3 linked regions of the Homo sapiens genome follow. The protein of the gene in region 3 purifies or fractionates together with the protein of the main gene of each other region. This does not show direct contact. Each region holds a gene or a part of one and is shown on either strand. Other genes may lie near its edges.

Region 1 (7,828 bases), on a different chromosome or scaffold from region 3:
GGTGGAGGAATGAGGTAGTTTTTGTATTCCTAGAAGCTGCCACTGGTTAGAGGTATCCAGCAGCTTATTCCTAATGTAAATGATACCAAGCTAAACTCTGATCGCTGAGATCTTGTGTTTTAGCTTAACCATCCCTTAGCAAGATTGGTTAGTTGTGATAGCAAAAGAGTGCTGAGGATGTGAATTAGGTCCACAGATGAGTCAAGTATCTTCCCCCTGAAATGGGACCACAAACCACACTCTGGCAGGCCACCATCTCACAAAGGCACTAACTTTGATCTAGGAAGGGCCAGTTGAAAGTGTGAATGCATCACCAGGAAAACATCTTCATCACTAAAAAAACAGCTCCATTCCTTCCTCAATATGATGTAGGAATAAAAAAGCACTAACAGGGTCAAGCATGACTTGCTAAACCTTACCTGTCCGGGAGGGGCGCTCTCTGCACCCAACACCTGCCTATAGAACACCGGATCACAGCTCCGCAGCGTGTTCTGGCGGCTGGCCAGTGGACTGGCTGCACCAGGTTTCTTCAGCAGCGGGTCGCTGCGGCGGGAGTCCGTGGTGAGATACACCTGATGGTAAAGGTGCGGCGACATCAGGCCTCCCCGCACGGCGTCCGCGTGCAAGGAGGGCCCTGGTGTTCGGTACAGTGAGCTCACCGGGGCTCGGTATAGGTCTCTAGACTGCTTCCACTTGTAAACTTTGAATATGATTACTCCGAACACTGTGACCACAAACCCCACAGAAACCAGGATTAGAGAAAGAAGTAGATAAAAGGTGAGATTTTTTTTCTGCTCCCGGGGGGCAGAGCCAGAGGGGAACTCGGCTCGGGCTTCAGGAGAGTCCTCGGTTACTGACACAGTGAGGGTAGCAGTGGTGGAGAGCGAAGGCTCCCCATTGTCTTTGATCAAGACCGTGAGAGTCTGCCTGGGTGAATCTGTGTCTTGGACTGGACGGGCAGTACTGATTTGACCAGTGTGCAGCCCTATGGCAAAAAGGCTCTGGTTAGGGGATCCCAAGAGACTGTAGGAGAGCCAGGCATTGTGCCCTGCATCCGCGTCCCAGCCTACCACCCGTGACACTAGGTGGCCAGCTGAGGTACCTCGAGGCAGCATCTCCACCGAGCTCCCACCTGGCCGAGGATATAGGACCTGGGGGGCATTGTCATTGCGATCAGTGACAAATATGTTCACGCTGATGTTGGTGGCTAGGACCGGGGTGCCCCCATCGCTGATATGAGCTGTTAATTCAAATTCCCGCCGATCCTCATAGTCTAGGGGCACTAAGGATGACACTATGCCATTGTCACGATTTATTGTGAAATAGCGACCCACTAGCCCGGTTTCAGCTCCTTGCTCCAAGAGAAAGAAAGAAAGCCGAGCATTCTGCGGGGCGTCGGGGTCCCAGACACTTAGGTTTAGTATTGGAGCCCCGGGGAGGTTGTTTTCTTCAATGTAAACGTCGTAGGAAGATTGAGAAGATTGTGGAGGGTTGTCATTGATGTCGGACACTTGAACACGCACTATTGTAAGGGCTGAGAGGGAAGGGGTTCCGGCGTCTCGGGCGGTGATGCTGAGGTTGTATTCTGGCACAGTCTCCCGATCCAGGTCTGCACTGGTTTTCAAAGTGAAGTAATTCTTGAGGGAAGAAGTAAGGCTGAAAGGGAGACCCGGTGGAACTTCGCAGGTCACCAGCCCGTTCTCGCCAGCATCCAGGTCAGTCACACTGAGCAAAGCGATGACAGTCCCCAGAGGGGCATCCTCGGGTACTGGGCTGTACACGGAGGTGACTGTGATCTCCGGGGCGTTGTCATTCACATCCACAACCTCCACCAACACTTTGCAATGTGCTCCTTCGGGATTGGCGCCCTTGTCTTTGGCCTGGATGTAAATCTCATGGAGTTTGGTGTCCTCGAAGTCCAGCCGACCCTTGATTGTCAGCATCCCGGTTACAAGGTCTAAGGCGAATAGTTGCCGCACGCCGGCGCGGTTGTGGCTGCCGAAGGAGTAAATAATTTCACCGTTGGGGCCTTCATCCAGATCCGTTGCAAGGACTTGTACCACGCGCGTGCCGGAGGGTGCATCCTCCAGGACGCGCGCCCGGTACAAGGACTGGTTGAAGACAGGCGCATTGTCATTCGCGTCCAGCACCTTGATGTGAATAGGCAGGCTGGCGGAGAGAGCTGGGGTCCCTCCGTCCAACGCCGTCAGCACTAACTGGAGACTAGGCTCCCGTTCTCGGTCCAGGGCGCGCTCCAACACCAGCTCCGCGTACTTGGTGCTGTCCTCCCGCGTCTGCACGCGAAGCGCAAAGTATTCATTTCGGCTCAGCTCATAGGTTTGTAAAGAGTTGCTTCCCACATCGGGATCGTGCGCGCTCTCGAGCGGAAAGCGCGTCCCCGGAGCCACGGCCTCGCTAATCTCCAATTTCATTTCCTGGGTAGGGAAAGCAGGATTGTTGTCGTTGATGTCCTGGATCACCACTTCCACGCTGAACAGCTCCAGCGGGTTCTCCACTACCAACTCCAGAGTTACAGTGCAAGAGGGCAGTGTCCCACACAGCTCCTCTCGATCCAGACGGTCGTTCACAAACATCTCTCCGGTCTCCCGGTTCACCTCAAAGAATCTTCGGCTAGCTCCAGACACCACCCGGAACCTGCGGGCTGAGAGGCTACCGAGATCCAAACCAAGGTTCGCGACCACGTTGCCCACAGCGAAACCCTTCTCTCTTTCCTCCGGGATCTCATAGTGAATGACCGTGGAAGCCTTGTTCAAGGCACCAAGCAGAAGCAAAACTCCCACTACCCTCCCGGTGCTTACCAGTCCGCTCCTCCAGGCCTCTGGGACCATCTCACTCAAAAGCAGTTCCTCTCAGCGGGGTCCAGATCGTCCCTGAGATTTCGCTGAGAAACTTTCAGCGGGTTAGCGCTTGGGCGCTGGGCGCCGAGTCCGACATGGCTTTCTGGATGCCGTTGATTTGCTCGCCGGCTGTTCAGTCTCTGCCTCATCCCGGGGCGCAGAAAGGGGACGGGCAGGGGCCCGATCTCCAGCGTCTTCATTGGCCGACAGCGGCACACAGAGTCCCAGCCAATAACTGCACGAAGAATGAGCTAGCGCCGGGCTCTCTGAGCAGGACACGCGCTAGCGCCAGGAACTTCACTTTCCTTTGGCTTCCTTCCAGAGTTTCCAGCCAAAGCGCCTTGCCAGTATCGGTGCATAGGAAACCTACCTTAGGGAAAGCCAGCCTTGGGGCTGTGAGGCTAGCCGTTCTGCAAGTCTCCAATCCAAATCAAGACTCATTAAACATTTGAATCACTTTCTTTGATCACAAGAAAGGGGATCGAACCAAACCGAAAACTACACAACATTGTCTGGAAAAACACCAACAAATCTGGCTTGTTGGAAGACAGACAATTAGCCGGACCCTACTTGTAAGGAGGCATTTAGCATTTCCGTGGAGACATTAATAATTTCAGTTTTATCTCTTACCAAATGAAATTAGCATTCCCTGTCACTTCCTCATTATCTGGAGCTACTATCAAATTAGCAGGAGTTACAATCTATTGGTTTAACTCTGGCTTATAAAATTTAAAAGTACAATTCAGATTTTATTTCTTTTAAAACTGGATGTCATTGTTAGCTCTCATTTCTTAAGAACCAGGGAGCAATAAGAAATTTCCCTACCCTGTCTTTCACAAGGAGCATGATCTCAGTTGTAGAGCACACTCTCTCTATCGTTTCCCTTTACTTGATCAATCCTTTTCCCAAGATCTTGGGTACCATATGCCACAAGAAGTTGCACTGCTAATGAAGAAGAAGACGGAGAAGATTTCAAAAAGAAAAAAAGCCAGGCCTATTTACCACCTAGGATCTTTATAAAATTATTGAAATAATGGCAGCAAAGCTCCACAAATCTTTAGAAAATACAAAGCCTTTAGTCACAGAATAAAGAGCCTTAACTTTTCTGCATTTAGAATTGTTGTCACCAAACAAAATTATAATGATTAGGATAGTGAATAAAAGAGTCCACTGTGATATAAGCCAGAGATGAGATGTATATCCTTGAACAAGAAATGAACCTCTAAGAGTTCCTGCTCCTATCCTATTAAATGAAGAAGGCAGGTAAAGTGCCTGGCACAGAGTAAGCCTCAATTAATGATGCAAACCACTCCATTAGATGTAAAGTGTTAGAGCCTCATACTATTTCTGTATATTTGTCTTGGACATCACTTTGATTGCATAGAGTCCTTTTGAAGTATAATAGAACCTTGAACATAAGTGAAGGGGTAGGCACATAGGTTAGGTAGGTAGAAAAGAAGTAAGGATATATAGGATATTTCCGGAAGAGATGAAAAGCCATATGTGACCTATATTTCCATGTCTTTAACACTTCAATTAATCTCTGAAAACCCCCAGTTTTAAATGCTCAAGTTTGATAATTAGCCAGACCAGCAAGAGGGCTGATAGGCATTAGAAGATAGAATACATTTAGAATTTAGAATAAAGAGTATAGCCCAATCACTTGCTACTCAAAGTGTGAGGACCAATGGTCTAGGCATCACCGGGGAGCTTGTTAGAAATGCAGAAATGCCCTCCTCTAGACCTACTGAGACATGACTTACATTTTAACAAAACATCAGGGTGATTTGAAAACACATTAAAGTTTGACAAGCACTGATCTAGTGGGTTATTCAGAGATACACTGGTTTATCAGTCTTTTTTTCCCCTATTCAGCATCACTTAATTCACAATCTGGTTTTTGAAAATCAGCTTTTAAAAATGTAAGTAGTTTTCTCAATAATAAGGCCTGTCATTTTCTTGATAATAAGGCCTGTAGTTTTCTGAGATTTTCGTTGTTGTTGTTTTTGTTGTTGTTTGTTTTTTGGTTTTTGTTTCTGAGGCAGGATCTCGCTCTGTCATCCAGGCTGGAGTACAGTGGAATAATCATAGCTCACTGTAACTTCCAGCTCCTTGGGCTCAAGGGATCCTCCCGCCTCAGACTTCTAAGTAGATGGGACTACAGGCCTGAGCTACTGCACCCAGCTCATAGTTTTCTTAAGACCTCTTCATGAACCAACAGAACCCTTGTGTATGCATTCTCCACAATAGCGAGGTTCATCTTCCTAAAATTTTAATTGGATCACACAATTGTCCAGCTGCTCCTCAGTAGCATCATACTGCTCTTGAATTAAAATACCAAATCCTTTGCATAGTATCCAAGTTCTCATGTCTTCTCCCTCTCTCACTATATTCCATTGCACCACTTGGAGGGTGGTCAGAACCCCAGCCCTTCCCTGTCTCAGGGCCTTCACACAAATTGTTCCTTTGCCAGGAAAGCTGCTTTTTCCTCCCTCCCTTTGCTTTGCTAATTTCTACAGGTCTGTCTGGTCTTAGTTTAAATGTTATTTCCTAATAGAGGTCTTCCATTAGGCCCCAGTTAAAACCAGGATCCTTTGTTATGCTCTCTCAGAACACCTTATATTTTTTCCATTGAACTTGGCACAACTTTAAATTTTATAATTATTTTTGCATAAGCAAAGTATCTGCTTCCCCCACTGAAGAAGAAAAAAAGAAGCTCCAGGAGGGCAGGGACCATGCTATTTTGGTGGCCACTTGCATCCTCACTGTCTAGCACAGCAGGCACTTAATGCTTATTAATATAGCAATCTTTATGCTACTGACATAGTAAAATAATCATAGCATACACTAAGGACTATATATGTATTCACTTGTGTGGATCCAATCTCCCTGGAAGTAAGCATTTTTTAGAAGATACATTTACTCCTTCAAGTTACCAGTGGGCCTTCCTAGCCCTAGTGATCTGAAGAGATAATATAGTTTGCCAAAGAGCCAAGTAAAGTGTGGTAATACAACTCACAGTGGATAATAAACAAAGATGCTGTAACTTGTTGTATCACTTCTTTCTTTCTTTCCTTCCTTCCTTCCTTCTTTCTTTTTCTTTTTCTTTCTTTTTTTTTTTTTTTTTGAGTTTCACTCTTGTTCCCCAGGCTGGAGTGCAATGGCATAATCTTGGCTCACCACAACCTCCTCCTCTTGGGTTCAAGCAATTCTCCTGCCTCAGCCTCCCGAGTAGCTGGGAATACAGGCATGTGCCACCATGCCCAGCTAATTTTCTATTTTTAGTAGAGACGGGGGTTTCTCCATGTTGGTCAGGCTGATCTTGAACTCCCAACCTCAGGTGATCTGCCAGCCTCCGCCTCCCAAAGTGCTGGGATTACAGGTGTGAGCCACAGCGCCTGGCCTGTATCACTTATTTCTAGGGGAAATGGAAGGACCAGTATACAGGATTTATATACTGATTCAACACAATTTCCCAGTCTTTATCTTTTTTCTTCTTTGTTTTATAATTTCAAGAGAGCTTCTGACCAATGAGATGCAGCATTTATAATATAATTTTTTTTTTCTTGAGATGGTGTCTCACTCTGTCACCCAGGCTGGAGTGCAGTGGCACGATCTCGTCTCACTGCAAGCTCTGCCTTCTGGGTTCAAGCGATTCTCCTGCCTCAGCCTCCCTAGTAGCTGGGATACAGGTGCGTGCCACCACGCCTGGCTAATTTTTTCTATTTTTAGTGGAGACGGGGTTTCACCGTGTTAGCCAGGATGGTCTCGATCTCCCAACCTCGTGATCTGCCTGCCTCGGCTTCCCAAAGTGCTGGGATTACAGGTGTGAGCCACTGTGCCCGGCTATAATATAACTTTAAAATAGAAAGTGAATGTATTATATGATCGAGAGTAAGGTCTTAGTGTCAAAAAGATTCAAATTCCAATACTGGATATTACACCTAGTAGCTATGTAACCATGAAACTTTTATTTTTAACTTCTCTTTTATTTTCTTTATGTATAAAATGGGAATAATAATAGTACTCATTGATATAACCACAGACATGTCAATCATTTTTAAAATCTTTTCACAGCTTTCTACATACAATATAGTGCCCCTATACGATGCAGGGATTTTTAATAAATTTATACAGTAATGCAACCAACCCCACAATCCAGTTTTAGAAAACTCTCATCACCCCCAAAATTTCCCTCATGCTTGTCTGTAGTCAATCTTCCTAGCTTCAGCCTCAGGCAACCACAGTTTTGCTTTTTCTGAATATTTTATTAAAAAGGAATTATAAAATAGGTAGTCTTTTATATGTCTTTTATATGACATAGCATAATGTCAAACTCATCTTTTGACCACACCCTCAAATATGTTATGTCTCCAACCTTCCTTACCTGGTAAGTGGCACTTCTATTCCAGCCAGAATTTCAGAAGTAATTTTTAATATTTTTTTCTGCATCCCCACATCCAGTATATTACTAATCCATACCAATGCTTACTACTCCCAAAATATATTTTGAAACTATCAATTACTTACCCTATCTACTGCTACCCCTGAGTCAAAGCAACCTTAAATGCTATCATAGCTTCCTCGCTGTTATTTTTACTCCCTCTCTTGCATTCCCTAAATTCCATTTCACATGCAGAGACCTGAGTAATCTTTCAAAAGGTACATGAGATTATACACTTTCCTTGCTAAAAACATAACTAAGCCTAGCTACGTAACTTGTAGGGTCAGTGCAAAATAAAAATAGGGGGCTTGGAGGCCGGGCGCAGTGGATCATACCTGTAATCCCAGCACTTTGGGAGGCCGAGTTGGGTGGATCACTTGAGGTCAGGAGTTTGAGACCAGCCTTGCCAACATGGTGAAACCCCATCTCTACTAAAAATACAAAAAAATTGCCAGGCATGGGGGTGGGTGCCTGTAATTCCAGCTACTAGGGAGGCTGAGCCAGGAGAATCACTTGAACCCAGGAG
Region 2 (7,000 bases), on a different chromosome or scaffold from region 3:
TGCCTCATATCTATAATGCCAGCAATTAGAAGGCTGAAGCAGGCAGACTGCTTGAGATTCAGAGTTCAAGACCAGCCTGGGCAACATGGCGAGACCCTGTCTCTATAAAATCTACACAAAATTAGCCAGGCATGGTGGCACACATCTGTAGTCCTAGCTACTTGGAAGGCTGAGGTGGGAGGATCCTCAAAGCCCAGGGAGGTTGAGGCTGCACTGAGCCATGATTGCAACACTGAACTCCAGCCTGGGCGTGGTGGCTCATGCCTGTAATCCCATCACTTTGGGAAGCCAAGGTGGGTGGATCACCTGAGGTCAGGAGTTTGAGACCAGTCTGGCCAACATGGCAAAACCCCATCTCTACTAAAAATATAAAATCATTAGTCAGGCATGGTGGCAAGCACCTGTAATCCCAGCTATTCAGGAGGCTGAGGCAGGAGAATTGCTTGAAACTGGGAGGTGGAGGTTGCAGTGAGCTGAGATCTCACCACTGCACTCCAGCCTGGGCAACAGAGAGAGACTTCGTCTCAAATAAATAAATAAATAAGAGAGACCCTGTCTCTAAATAAATAAATAATAGCGTGACACCTCCCCTACACAACTCTCTCTCTCACTCCTGCTTTTGCCATGTGAATTGCCTGCTCCCGCTTTGCCTTTGGCCACGAGTAAAAGCTCCCTGAGGCCTCACCAGAAGCCAAGCTGATGCCAGTGCCATACTTCCTGTACAGCCTACAGAACTGTGAGCCAGTTAAACTTCTTTTCTTTATAAATTACCCAGTCTGATTTAATTGTATATAGCAGTGCAAGAGACTAATACACCAGGGTATAATTGTGTAACAACCAAGCCCAGGTGATCTGTATCAGATCTGTATTAGATCAGATTTCTTTAGGCTCTCTTGTTGCAGATTTTCTTGTTCAGATATCTTATAAACTAACAAAAATGTCTTGAAGATATCACTAGATTTTAAAGGCTCACATTTGCTGTTTACCACTTCCCCAGATATACCAGGATAAAGAAGACAAAATATGTTAAAATCCTTAATACAGTGAAAGCATCGTATATGCTTTGAAATGACTGTTGCAAGTGAAACAGTTCATTGTAACAGTATCATGCAAGCCAGGGGCAAAGTATATTGGATTCTGGAAACATAGCAGCTTTTCCCACGCCTCATGCCCAATTTGGTTTAGGGATTTACTACGTCTTTTATTTACTTAATTTTTTTACTTGGCCACTAATATCCAGTTAAAGTGTTTCTTTTGCAAACTAAAACTGCTGTTTCTGCTACTGTCTAAAAAAGATAATCTTTCTATTACATGAGATTATGTGAGAGACATCCATAATACTTTTGAAGTATCTCAACTTTAGAAATGGGTGGCTGGAGGCCGAGCACAGTGGCTCATGCCTGTAATCCAGCACTTAGGGAGGCTGAGGTGGGCGGATCACCTGAGGTCAGGAGTTTGAGACCAGCCTGGCCAACATGGTAAAACCCCATCTCTACTAAAAATACAAAAATCAGTCAGGCCTCGTGGCGGGTGCCTGTAATCCCAGCTACTCGGGAGGCTGAGGCAGGAGAATTGCTTGAACCCAGGAGACAGAGGCTGCACTGAGCTGAAATCACCCCACTGCATTCCAGCCAATCACGAGGTCAAGAGATCGAGACTATCCTGGCCAATATGGTGAAACCCCGTCTCTACTAAAAATACAAAAATTAGCTGGGTATGGTGGCGCGTGCCTGTAGTCCCAGCTACTTGGGCGACAGAGCAGGACTCTGTCTCAAAAAACTAAAAAAAAAAAAATAGAAATGGGTGACCAGTATACAGTTTCAGACCACTAAAAACACCTCCATCTACAGCTGTCAGCCATCATGACACTCCATGCAACTACTTACTCATTAATATTTAGTAACTATCTAATGGATGCTGCAAGGCTCTATAAAAACAAAGATAAGGGAAAAAATGAAAGATTACTTGTGGATACGTTTTTCCGAATTTTGAGGCAATTAGACGAAACATCCCAGATGCAGAGTCAGATGGGAACCAGAGTTAGTAATAACTTTTTGGGCCAGGCGCGGTGGCTCATGCGTGGAATCCCAGCACTTTGGGAGGCCAAGGTAGGCAGATCACGAGGTCAGGAGTTTGAGGCCAGCCTGGCCAACATGGTGAAACCTCGTCTCTAGTAAAAATACAAAAATTAGCCAGGCGTGTGGTGCATGCCTGTAATCCCAGCTACTCAGGAGGCTGAGGCAGGAGAATCCCTTGAACCCAGGAAGCACAGGTTGCAGTGAGCCAACATTGTGCCATTGCACTCCAGCCTGGGCAACAAGAGCAAAATTCCGTCTCAAAAAAAAAAAAAAAAAAAAAAAACTTTTAGTGTTCCCATATTTAGAATTTTTCTTTGTTTAAAAAGATGATTTTGAAATAATTAGCTAAGATAATGCCCTGATTCATTCACAACATTTACTATGGATAATGAGGTACCTTGAAAAGAAACCATATAGTAAGATAGTTAAAAGACCAGAAGCAGGCCGGGCACAGTGGCTCACGCCTGTAATCCCAGCACTTTGGGAGGCCGAGACGGGTGGATCATGAGGTCAGGAGACCAAGACCATCCTGGCTAACACGGTGAAACCACGTCCTACTGAAAATACAAAAAATTAGCCGGGCGTGGTGGTAGGTGCCTGTAGTCCCAGCTACTCCAGAGGCTGAGGCAGGAGAATGGCGTGAACCTGGAAGGCGGAGCTTGCAGTGAGCCGAGATTGCGCCACTGCACTCCAGCCTGGGCAACAGAGCGAGACTCCGTCTCCAAAAAAATAAATAAATAAAAAAGACCAGAAGCAAATTAGAATGGGTTGCTTTAACTTGTTTTAAAATTTCTCCTGATAGGCTGGGGGCAGTGGCTCACGCCTGTAATCCCAGCACTTTGGAAGGCCAAAGTGGGCCAATCACGAGGTCAGGAGTTGGAGACCAGCCTGGCCAACATGGTGAAACCCCGTCTCTACTAAAAATACAAAAATTAGCTGGGTGAGGTGGTACGTGCCTGTAGTCCCAGCTACTTGGGAGGCTGAGGCAGGAGAATCGCTTGAACCTGGGAGGCGGAGGTTGCAGTGAGCCGAGATTGTGCCACTGCACTCCAGCCTGGCGACAGAGCAAGATTCCGTCTCAAAAAAAAAAAAAAAAAAAATTCGGGCCAGGCGCAGTGGCTCCCAGCACTTTGGGAGACTGAGGCAGGCGGATCACGAGGTAAGGAGTTTGAGATCAGTCTGGCCAACATGGTGAAGCCCCGTCTTGACTAAAAATACAAAAATTAGCTAGGCATGGTGGTGGGCGCCTGTAATCCCAGCTACTTGGGAGGCTGAAGCAGAATCGCTTGAACTCGGGTGGCAGTGAGCCGAGATTGTGCCACTCCACTCTAGCCTGGGCAACAGAGCAAGACTCCGCCTCAAAAAAAAAAAAAAAAAAAGATTTCTCCTGATTTCCCTCCAAAGGTATAACCTTTCTTTTTTCTTTTCTTTTTTTCTTTTTTTTTTTTGAGATGGAGTCTTGCTCTGTTGCTAGAGTGCAGTGGTCTCAGCTCACTACAACCTCTGCCTCCCGGGCTCAAGCGATTCTCCTGCCTCAGCCTCCAGAGTAACTGGGATTACAGGCGCCCGCCACCACGGCTGGCTAATTTTTGTATTTTTAGTAGAGATGGGGTTTCACCATCTTAGCCAGGCTGATCTCAAACTCCTGACCTCGTGATGTACCCGCCTCTGCCTCCCAAAGTGCTGGGATTACAGGTGTGAGCACTGTGCCCGGCCATCTGTACCTTTTTTAAAGGGGCTCATTTTCTTTCTCTTCTTTTTTTTTTTTTTTTTAAATAGGATCTTGCTCTGTCTCCCAGGCTGGAGTACAGCGGCATGATTTCGGCTCATTACAACCTCTGCCTCCCAGGCTCAAGCAATCCTCCTACCTCAGCCCCCCAAGTAACTGGGACTAGAGGTGTGTACCAGCATACCTGGCTAACTGTTGCACTTTTTTTGACAGACAGTGGGTTTTGCCACGTTGCCCAGCCTAATCTTGAACTCCTAGGCTCCAGTGATCAGCCGGCCTCAGCTTCCGAAAGTGCTGGGATTACAGGCGTGAGCCACCGCACCAGGTCACAGGGCTCATTTTCAATTTACCAACTTGTGGTTTAAAGCTATTAAAGTAGATTACTTTCACATTTCAGCTAGATTATCCAACCGCAAGTTACAAAGTTATCTCAAAAAATATTGCCTCCTCTGGCCGGTTGTGGTGGCTCACAACTGTAATCCCAACACTTTGGGAGGCCGAGGTGGGCAGATCACCTGAGGTTGGGAGTTTGAGACCAGCCTGACCAACATGAAGAAACCCCATCTCTACTAAAAATACAAAATTAGCTGGGCGTGGTGGTGCATGCCTGTAATCCCAGCTACTCGGGAGGCTGAGGCAGGAGAAGCGTTTGAACCTGGGAAGTGGAGGTTGCAGTGAGCTGAGACTGGACCATTGCACTCCAGCCTAAGCAACAAGAATGAAACTATTCCGTCTCAAAAAAAAAAAAAAAATGTAGAAAGGAACTGCAAATGATCTGCCCCTTTAGGAAGGAAATATGAAATACAGGTAAAGCTATGAAGTTTTTGCTTGACATCACACAAGTCACTGCTAGTGAGCTCATACTCTTTTAAGGGATCAAGACTAAATCCATGGGAGGCCGAGGTGGGTGGATCACCTGAGGTCAGGAGTTCAAGACCAGCCTGGCCAACATGGTGAAACCCCGTCTCTACTAAAAATACAAAAATTAGCCTGGCGTGGTGGTGGGCACCGGTAATCCCAGCTACTTGGGAGACTAAGGCAGGAGAATCGCTCAAACCCAGGAGGCGGGGGTTGCAGTGAACCAAGATCCCACCACTACACTCCAGCCTGGGCAACACAGCAAGACTCCATCTGAAAAAAAAAAAAGACTAAATCCACATGTTAATAGTGAAAACATAAAGACACATGCACACATATGTTTACTGTGGCACTATTCACAATAGCAAAGACTTTGAACCAACCCAAATGTCCATCAATGATAGACTGGATTAAGAAAATGTGGCACATATATACCATGGAATACTATGCAGCCATAAAAAAGGGTGAGTTCATATCCTTTGAAGGGACATGGATGAAGCTGGAAACCATCATTCTCAGCAAACTATTGCAAGGACAAAAAACCAAACACCACATGTTCTCACTCATAGGTGGGAAATGAACAATGAGAACACATGGACACAGGAAGGGGAACATCACACATCGGAGCCTGTCATGGGGTGGGGGGAGGGGGGAGGGATAGCATTAGGAGATATACCTAATGTAAATGATGAGTTAATGGGTGCAGCACACCAACATGGCACATGTATACATATGTAACAAACCTGCAAGTTGTGCACATGTACCCTAGAACTTAAAGTAGAATAAATAAATAAATAAATAGTGAAAACATTTTGCCAGGGTTACTAAAATAGCTACAGAGGTTGAAGCTCAAGTCACACATGGAAAGACTTCCCTAGAGCTATTCAACATAAGCTTATGTCCTCTATGCTAAAAAACGAATCTGTTCACAACTATTATAAAGAAACAAATGCAAACAAATTTTAAACAATTATAATGAAAATAGAAAGAACTAAAAAACTATAGGTAACTAAGTATATATATAATTCAATAAATTAATCAAGTACAGCACTGGTTCCCAATACTGATCCAAGACAAAATTTTTAGCAGCTGGCCAGGCACAGTGGCTAATGCCTGTAATCCTGGCACTTTGGGAGGCCAAGGTGGGCGGATCACCTGAGGTCAGGAGTTCGACACCAGCCTGGCCAACATGGCAAAACCCCTTCTCTACTAAAAATACAAAAATTAGCTGGGCATGGTGGAGGGCACCTATAATCCCTACTCGGGAAGCTGAGGCAGGAGAATCACTTGAACCCGGGCGACAGAGGTTGCAGTGAGCCGAGATCAGGCTGCTTCACTCCAGCCTGGGCGAAAGTGAGAAACTCCATCTCAAAAAAAAAAAGAAAAAAAATTTAACAGTCTACAGTGAAATAAAACAGTAAGGAAAAGGTTACTTTTATTTCATAAAGCTAAATCTATATAATCTATAGAAGCGTCCTTAACCCTAAAAATACATACTTCTTAATGTTTTGGTACTATCATGAAATGACCAAGACAACACATCATTGGGGGAAAGGGGTTCTAACAAAGTTACTTTGCAAAATAAGAAGTTGAGTCATAAACCTAGTCTTTCAATGCTGTGTATGTGTGTGTAATCAGAATAATGTGAAACAGAGCTCTATACCCACAGAGAACCCAGTCAAGCTCTGAATGATCAAATAATATTCTAGAGAGTTTCTCATACAGAGAAGCATAAAGACAGTATCTGAGTATGTTTCCAAAAATCAGTATTAATGAATTTTGTCCATAATCATTTTGATGGTCACAAGTTTGAGCATATATTTGAATCCCTAATATATTTAAAGCATTACATGTATTTCAACATTCAAAATTACATAAAGAAACCCAAATGTACTGGGTGGTTTTATAGCTAAAGGCAACTGCTGAAGAATGTTTCATTTCTCAATTTAAAATAGTACGGTACTATCTTTTAATATTCTAAGAGTTCTACCAATGTAAGACTTCCATCCAATTACATTTCTACAACTGAATTGTTCTCTAAGTCATTTCACTTCAACTGAAAATGTCATTTCATTATAGGACATTAAAAATTCTGAATGTCACTTGGCTCTAGGCAATTGGTCTTGATTAAACAAAAATCAAACCTTAACACAAAAATATATCTTACATAAAATTACTTCTAAATGTTTACCAACCAACGGAGAATCTTAAATGTAGGCCCGGCTGTGGCCAAGCGCAGTGGCTCGTGCCTGTAATCCTAGCACTTTGGGAGGCCAAGGTGGGCAGATCACCTGAGGTCAGGAGTTCAAGACCAGCCTGGCCAACATGGTGAAAC
Region 3 (7,946 bases):
CATCAACATGGATGAATCTTGTTAAGTCCAATGGCAATTCCTAGAAAATGATATATAGTATAGTACCTTTTAATAAAGTTCAAAAAGCAAGTAAAGCTAAATAAATTCATGTTACATGTATTTTTAAATCCAAGGAAATGATAAACCATAAAAATCAGGATAGTGGCCAGGCGCAGTGGCTCACGCCTGTAATCCCAGCACTTTGGGAGGCTGAGATGGGTGGATCACGAGGTCAGGAGTTCAAGACCAGCCTGGCCAAAATGGTGAAACTCCATCTCTACTAAAAACACAAAAAATTAGCCAGGCATGGTGGCAGGAGCCTGTAATTCCAGCTACTCGGGAGACTGAGGCAGAGAATTGCTTGAACCTGGGAGGTGGAGGTTGCAGTGAGCTGAGATGGTGCCACTGCACTCCAGCCTGGGTGACAGAGCAAGACTCCATCTAAAAAAAAAATCAGGATAGTGTTTTTGTGTGAAGGAGAGGCAAAAAGATGGGCTAGGAAAGGAGCACCCGGGAAGATGTAGGTGTTGGAAATGTTCTAGGTCTTGGGTTCAATAGTGGGTTCATGTGTGTTCATCATGTTATGAATAAATACATGAATTAATAAGTCCCATACTTGGGCTAATGTTGACAATGTGTCATGATCAAGGATTATGATTAATTCAATTCTGATCATTCAATACCTAAATGGAAGACAGAAATAGAGAGGGAGAGAGAGAAGCCAATGGAGCTGGCCTTTCTTCCTTTTTTCCTCCCTCCCTTCCTCCCTGCCTGCCTGTCTTTCTTTTCTTTTCCTTTACCTTTAATTATTCCACAAACATCTACTGTTTGTCGACTGTATACCATGCCCCAGGCTGAGAACTAGGAACACTGGGATGAATCAGACACAGTCCTGCCCTACAGAGTCACCATGTGATGCAAGAGTCTGACAATTCCCCAAATGTTTTCAAGGTGCTATGACAGATGTAAAGCAACAAGGTGTGGTAGGGCTTACAGAAGGGGCCCTTAATCCAGCCTGGGCTATTTGGGAAGACTGTGGAGCTTTCTGCTTTGAGAAATTAGCAAGAAGAAAATGTGGTTGGGGGTGTAACAGCTATAAAAATGAAAAAGACAGCCTTGCCCTTGAAGTGCTCATATCTTGGGGTGAGGGACAAGAAAGGAGGTCACAACAGTGGGACTTGGGGTTGTGAGAGAGGCAAGCACAGGCTTGAGATGCACATAGGAGGGCACCGTGCTGTGCCTGCAGTGTTGGGAAGGCTTCCTGGAGGAGATGACATGTATACAAGCAGAGAGACGAAGTATGAATTAGAGTTACCTGGAAAGTCTGTACCAGGAAGAAAGGTAAGCACCTACAATGGCCTGTGGCAGGGAGAAAGAGCATGGAGGAGCTCAGGGGGCCCCAGTGTGGCCTGGCCCAGAGCGCAAATGAGAGGAGGTGAAACTAGATGAGTAGGCAGGGAGCCAGATTCCATGAAAAAGCATGAAAATTATGCTGTGGACCATGGGGTACCTCTGAAGGGAGTGGCAAGGGTGATTTTTCCTTCATGAAGAGAGCCCAGCAGTAGAGGTGAGGGGGCCGCTATAACTGCTAGGGAAAGAGATGGTGATGCTTGGGCTGTAAAGAGGAACAGAATTTGAGAGCTGAGCACCTGATGGACAATGCTGCATGGCAGGCTGGGCTCAAACAGGGTTGCTCCTGAGGGGTGGGCAGAGGACATTCAAACCTCACACAACACAGTTCTGTCTTGCCACAGACCTCCTTGGAGCAAGCTGCAAGCTCCAAAATTTCTCAGAACTGAAAGTTTTTCCTCCAACTTCTGTAAAACCATGGTTAATACTTTTACAAGACAGAGAAGGAGTCCGAGATTTCAATAGCTAAAAACTGGGAAGTAGACCGAATACCATTCCTTGTGGGAGCAAAGGCAGGAGGAGTGAGGTTCAGAGCTTTGCTTTATCCAAGGGGTTCTGGACCCCTGACTGCAGCAGCTCCCTACTGGACCTTCTGCCCCAGGCATTACTTTGCCTTAGTCCAAGAATCCCACGAATGCTACAGATCTTGGTCTACTCCTGAGAAGTAGAAGGAAAAAGATTTATTGTGCACCGACTACACGACAAGCTACAACCCACAACTGTACTCTAGGGACATTCTTCTGTTCCTGTTTAGAAATGAGAAAGCTAGGACCCAAAGGCTTGGAATTGAGATTTAAGCCCAGAGCTGTCTGACTATGCCCATGCAATACTGTACATTCTTTAGAGCAATACTGTGGCTAGTTTTTCACGGTTGCATTTTTAGACTCACTCTTGGACAGTTAAGAACATCTTGCATTAGTTACCTACTGCTGAATAACAAATTACTCCAACATTTAGCTGATTAAAACAACAAACATTTATTATCTTACAGTTTCCATGCATCAGAAATCTAAGCACAGGTAGTTGGTTTCGGTGATTCACGATCTCTCATGAGGTTGCAGTCAAGGCATCACACAGGGCTGTATTGTCCTATGAAGGGCTCAGCTCGGCGGGGCAGAGATCTGCTCCCAAGTTCACTCATGTGGTTATCGGTAGGTCTCAGTCACTCACCATATGGGCCTCTCTCCACAGTGCCACTGCAGGATATAGCAGCTGGCTTCTCCAGAGAGGTGATCCCAAAAGAGAGCAAGAGTGTATGCTCAAAACAGAAGCCACAGTCTTCTTATAACCTAATATTGGAAGGAACATCCCATTACCTCTGCTGTATTCTGTTAGTGAGAAGCAAGTCAGTAAGTCTAGCCCACACTTTAAGGGAAAGGGTTTACACAAGGGAGTATATACCAGGAGTCAGGGATCACTGGGGGCCATTTAGAAGCTGCTGATCTCAATCTAAAGAATTTTAGTAGCCAGGCTATCCTGGCTTCTCCCCAAATGGCAAGTTGTTTCCCTTGTTATCCAGAGGCTGGAGGATTTGGGGGTCTACAGGGACACAAGGGGGCCCTGTTTTGGCCCACTCCTTTGTGCCTGGGGCATAATCTCATTGGGAAAGGCCAGTGTGGTGAACCTAACTGGAGCCCCCAAGGGAGGGGGGGAGTTGTTTTCTCAAATTGTGGCCACTGCTCCCTCCCTCCCTTATCCTTGAAGCTACTGTGATGCTTCCCAGCACCGAGTGGAAGCAACGGGCATCCTCCACACACACACCCAGCCTGTCAGCCAGATGGGTAGAGAAACCATCAGCATGAACGTCTGCTTTAAACTTTCCTTTGCTTCTGAGCTTCTTTCCACAAATTTTCTTTTCTTGCTCCCCAACCACATCCATAACCCCCACAGTAGCTCACAGTAGAGGTGCTCCAGGAGCTTGTCAATAGGAGGTAGGAAGGAAAGACACCAAGTGTGAATGTAGGTCAGCACTGCCACTTAGGGCAGTTCAAATCACATTCACTGTCCTCAGCATCTATCCTATGCTGGTGCAGGGCATCCAGAGATGTGTGAGGTACCTATACTTGCCCTCCAGGGGGGGCTCACAGTTTTAGGAGGGGCAGACATGCAAACAGACAGTGATGAAACGTTAGAATAAGTACAATAAATACGTGTCAATACACACTTTTGTCACCTCATCATGGTTATCTTGGTTCATAAAGCATCATCTTATGCTTAGACTATTACAGTAGCTGCCAACCTGGTTTCCTCCATCCATCCATCCAGTTGGCTGCTAAGAGGTCTTTCTGGAATGCAAATCCGACAAGGTCACTACCCTGGTTAAAGGCCTCCCAAAGTGATGGGGAAGGTCAAGCTCTTGATACAGTCTCCACCCAAGACCCTAGACACCGTCCATCCCTCCAGTTCCGTCATACCCCCTCTGCTCATAGCACAGGCTCTGTGCTGTGATAGGTAGCTCTCCAGGTGACCATGTTGTACCCCTGCCTCCAGGAGCTAATTCATGTAGACACATTTACTAGGAAACATTCCCAGTTGCCCTTTCCAGTCTGACAAATTCGCCCCAGAACCTCTCTCAAAACGTTTCCTTCATAGAGTTGGATTGTCTTTACTTGTTTTCCATGTCCTTGATGAAATGCGCACTCTGCATCTAGACTCTGTCTGCATCTAGACTCTGTCTGCATCTAGACTCTGCCTGGTACCTGGCACAGAGAGGGATTGGGTTAGCAAATGACTGCGTAATGGACCTAAAGTCAATTCTGGGAGCACAGACGAGGGCCACCAAACCAAGAACTTTCAATTTCCCCAAGGAAGCGCAGATACCAGAAGCACCCTCGAGGCTTCTGTTTTGGCCACGCCCTTTACCCCATCGCTCAGTTCAGGCTCCCAATGAGGCGGCCCACCATCAGCGCTGGTAGAGCAAAGAGACCGACTTCCTGCGCCTCGGGTGGGCGGGGAACGCTCCTTGAGCAGGTGCGGTATGAAATTGGACTTTAAGAGATGAGTTGGAGCCTGATCTCAAAAATAAAGTGTGGACGTGTGTGTCTGAGGAAGGGGGATAATAAACCACCCTTTTTTCCTCCTGGCTGCTATTTCCCACGTGCGTTGAGTAAAGGCACCAAAGCTGCCTAGTGACTGGGTGTCTCCTCCCCGTCAGGGGCACCCACCCTGGCGCTCCAGGAGCGCTTGAATGAATCCGGGAGGACCCGCGCGCAGGAATGAATGCGAGAGCTAGGGAGTGAGCGGGCGAGTGGGCGGGTGAGTGAATGGCGACCGCGCCGCCGCCTTGGCACAGGGGCGCGGGCGCGGGCTCCACTTCCCTCTCCCGCCAGCTGGTGGCCTCGAGAAGGTGGCGGCGCCGGCAGCGGCCCGAGCTGGGACGGCCGGGGCGCGGGATGGTGGGGGAAGGGGCGTTCCCGGCGACCGCGCCTTCCGCGGCTATTGGATTAGTGGCCTTCAGGGATGAGCTCAGCCAGATCGGCTTTCAGCTGCAGCCTCCGGGCCGGCCGGGAAGGCGGGGAGCGGGCGGCGGCGGCGGAGGAGGGGGAGGCGGCGGCGGCTGCAGCATCCAGAGCTGGCCGTGGCGGCCGGCGCGCCCCGCGCACAAAAGCACCCAGCCCCAGGGGAGGGCGATGAACACACCACATCCCGGGCCCGGGCCCCAGCTGCTGCTACCGCTGCGTGCGCTCAGGGCGCTGGGGAAGACGCCCGGCGCGCCGGGGGCCAGCGGCCGAGGCGCGGCCCGTGCGCCCTGAGCGCGGGACTCGTCGCCCTCCGGGTCAGGCGCCAAGCTTCCAAGCGGCTAGAGCGCGGGCCTTGGAGCGCCCCCAGGATCGCTTCAGTAAGGCGCTTCCCCACTCCAGGCCCGACCCCCGGCGCCTGAGCGCCAACTTCGCCAAGAACGCTCCTAACTCCAGGCCATCCTGCAGCGCAGAGGGGGCGCTGCTGCCGGGCATCAGCCGTGAGGACGCGCCCCTGGCCGTGCGGAGAGAGCCGGCATTTGCGGGTCACTCGGGCGCCCCTGAGTGGGCGGCGGCGGCAGCAGACCCCTCTCCAGGGAGTCCAGGACCTGCCAGCGCTGGGGATTCTTCCCGAACAGGCGCTTGCCCTCTCTTTTATGGTAAGTACTCTCCAGCTCCTGGTGAGGGGCGCGCGGGGGCCGGGAGCCGAGATCCGGCTGCACGGACTTTGTGCGGGCCAGCACTCGACACAGCTGGCGCTCCTGACGTCCCAGTCCCTGAGAATTCCTCTCTGCAGGTTGTGGCAGTTCGAGATGGTTGATTTGCGCGCAGCCCTGGGGCGTTTGGGGCCCGGCCTTTGGTATCATGGGTTCTAAGCCCTTTGCTTCTCTGCGTAGCGGACAACGCACAAAAAACTGCCATCCGATTCACCCGCTTTGGTTTGGATCCAGGATCCGTCACTCACTGGCTGAGTGACCTTGGACAGGGCGCCAAACCTGTTTCCTCATCCGTAGGATGGGAATGATAATTGTGCACATTTTATAGGGGTATTGGAAAGATCTATGGGATGGTGTTCGTAGGTAGACATGTGCTGGGCACACAGGAAACACTCAATCATATGTTAGCTAGTATTATTATTAGCTTTGCGAGCCCAAGCTTGTTATCCAACTTTCCGAAGCTGCAGCAGTTCCGTCGTCCGTGTAATGGGGACAATAATTCCTGGGGGTCTGTTCGTCCGGGGTATTCGGAGAGGTGGAAGTAAAGCACGGGTCACGCAATAGGCACCGGTGGCTGTTGTTACCGTTTATTCCTGACTCTGGGGCAGTGAGGCTGGTCGCCTGGCCCGAGAGCGACTCAGGGACCAGTCCTGGCCTTGCTTGAATACAAACTTGTCTATGCTCGGGAAGGGAGGGGGTTGGGAGCTCAGGAAACCCTAGGCGCAGGGCTCTGGGAAGGAGGGAGGGGGTCAGAGACTTGAGCGCGGCAAATGTGTCCGCCCTGGTCGCTCTGTACGCGCCAGGGGCTCCAAGCCAGAAGGGGACGCCGAGCCCCCGACCTCTGACTGGCGGGAGAACCGGGGGAGTGGCTGCTCCCGCCGGCCCATGGCCAAGCGCAGACGGCTGCCGGCAGGAAGGAGAGGAGGGCACTTTTCTGTACCGCTGTCGCGAGAAGGTGGAGAGTTCTCAGTTCTGGAGTCAGGCTTGGGTTCGAATCTGTCTCCACCACCAGCTCGCGGTGTGACCTTGGGCAAGTTCTCTAACCTCCCCCCGCTTGGTTTCCTCTTCTGCGCCCCACTCTCCTCCTTGGGGGGTTGGGGGATGAAGATAGGAGTTCCTTTCTCTCAGACTCTGAGCCCTCTATCCTCCCACCCCCTTTCTGGCCCCCTGCCCCCCACCCGCGCAATTTGATGAGCTTAAGTCTGGAAGACGTAAAATGTGTAAAAGCATGATATAAACATCCTTTACCCAAGGGCATATTCCTCTGAGACACATACCCTCTAATTTATTCCATTTTTAAAAATGGTAATGAAAAGAATTTAAGCCACCTTTGGCAAATCACAAACAAAATTCAACTTACTGGACCTTCTACCCAAATATCTCTCCAGTTTGTATTTCTCGTTTATTTTAAAGATATATTTAATGATATAAAAATAAAATCTGCAAGGAAAAGAAATCACCAGAAACAGTCAAAAGATATATGACAAACTGTCACATATGACATATACCACTCCTATCACAACAGGCTCATCTCTTTAAATATGTAAGAGATTCCTGAGGTCAACAAACAAAAGATCAAATGGGCAAAGACACGATTCATACATGCGAAATAAAATAGAAATGATACCAAAACATATGACAAGATACCTTACCTCAATACGAAAAATGCAAGTTAAAATTACAAGATTTTTTTTTAATGTATCAAATTAGCAAGTAGTCATAACCATTTATCAGAAGCATCTTTTAAAAATGTAGATCACATTTCTCCCTAGCTCAGGACCTCCTTAAGGCTGCCACAGAGTAAAATCTAGATGATCCCAGGGGTCCTCAGGTCTGGTACTGCCCTTCTCCACCTCTTCCTCACCATTTTCCTCTCCCCCACTACCCACCCTCCTAGCCTTCTTCCTTTTACTCCAACACTCCAAAGGCTCATTCACTTGCTGTTCCCCTGCCTAGAATACTTTTCCTCCTAGTTTTTCATACAACTGAAACTTCCTCATCATTTACGTAGAACTGTCCTTGGAAGGGCTTCATTTCTATCCCAGAAAGTGGCCAAGCCACAGTGGCCAGTGCAGAATTCCTTGCCCTTTTGGGGAAAGACCTAGTACAACTCACCATACAGGAGTTACTTAATTTCCCCTGAGCTGCCCGACCTGTTGTCACACATCCATGCTCTAGAAAGGTTTTTTCTCTGTTGATACAGGAGTGAAGGGTCTTGGGCATGAAAATCAGGGGAGTGGCAGGCCGTAGATGGAGGTCACCAGAAGTCTCTGCCTATATATGTACTATATAAGTACATAGTATGTACTCTTGATTTATGTGAACATGACCATCTGTGGTAAGAAAAGATCAACTATAAAAA

The links. The genes of interacting proteins can lie anywhere in the genome.
Region 1: the proteins of SPSB4 (region 3) and PCDHGC3 purify together in Homo sapiens (co-immunoprecipitation; 2 studies listed by BioGRID and IntAct, with this or other methods). This does not show direct contact.
Region 2: the proteins of SPSB4 (region 3) and LRIG2 purify together in Homo sapiens (co-immunoprecipitation; 2 studies listed by BioGRID and IntAct, with this or other methods). This does not show direct contact.

What each region holds. Positions count from the first base shown.
Region 1 is NC_000005.10:141,471,138-141,478,965, reverse strand, and holds the start of PCDHGC3 (protocadherin gamma-C3 isoform 1 precursor), read right to left. Parts: upstream 3,001-7,828; 5' UTR 2,850-3,000; coding exon 420-2,849; coding exon of another isoform or gene 258-419; exon of another isoform or gene 171-257; intron 1-170. UniProt on the Homo sapiens protein: Potential calcium-dependent cell-adhesion protein. May be involved in the establishment and maintenance of specific neuronal connections in the brain.
Region 2 is NC_000001.11:113,076,198-113,083,197, reverse strand, and holds part of LRIG2 (leucine-rich repeats and immunoglobulin-like domains protein 2 isoform 1 precursor), read right to left. Parts: intron 1-7,000.
Region 3 is NC_000003.12:141,046,466-141,054,411, forward strand, and holds the start of SPSB4 (SPRY domain-containing SOCS box protein 4), read left to right. Parts: upstream 1-4,881; 5' UTR 4,882-5,527; intron 5,528-7,946. UniProt on the Homo sapiens protein: Substrate recognition component of a SCF-like ECS (Elongin BC-CUL2/5-SOCS-box protein) E3 ubiquitin-protein ligase complex which mediates the ubiquitination and subsequent proteasomal degradation of target proteins.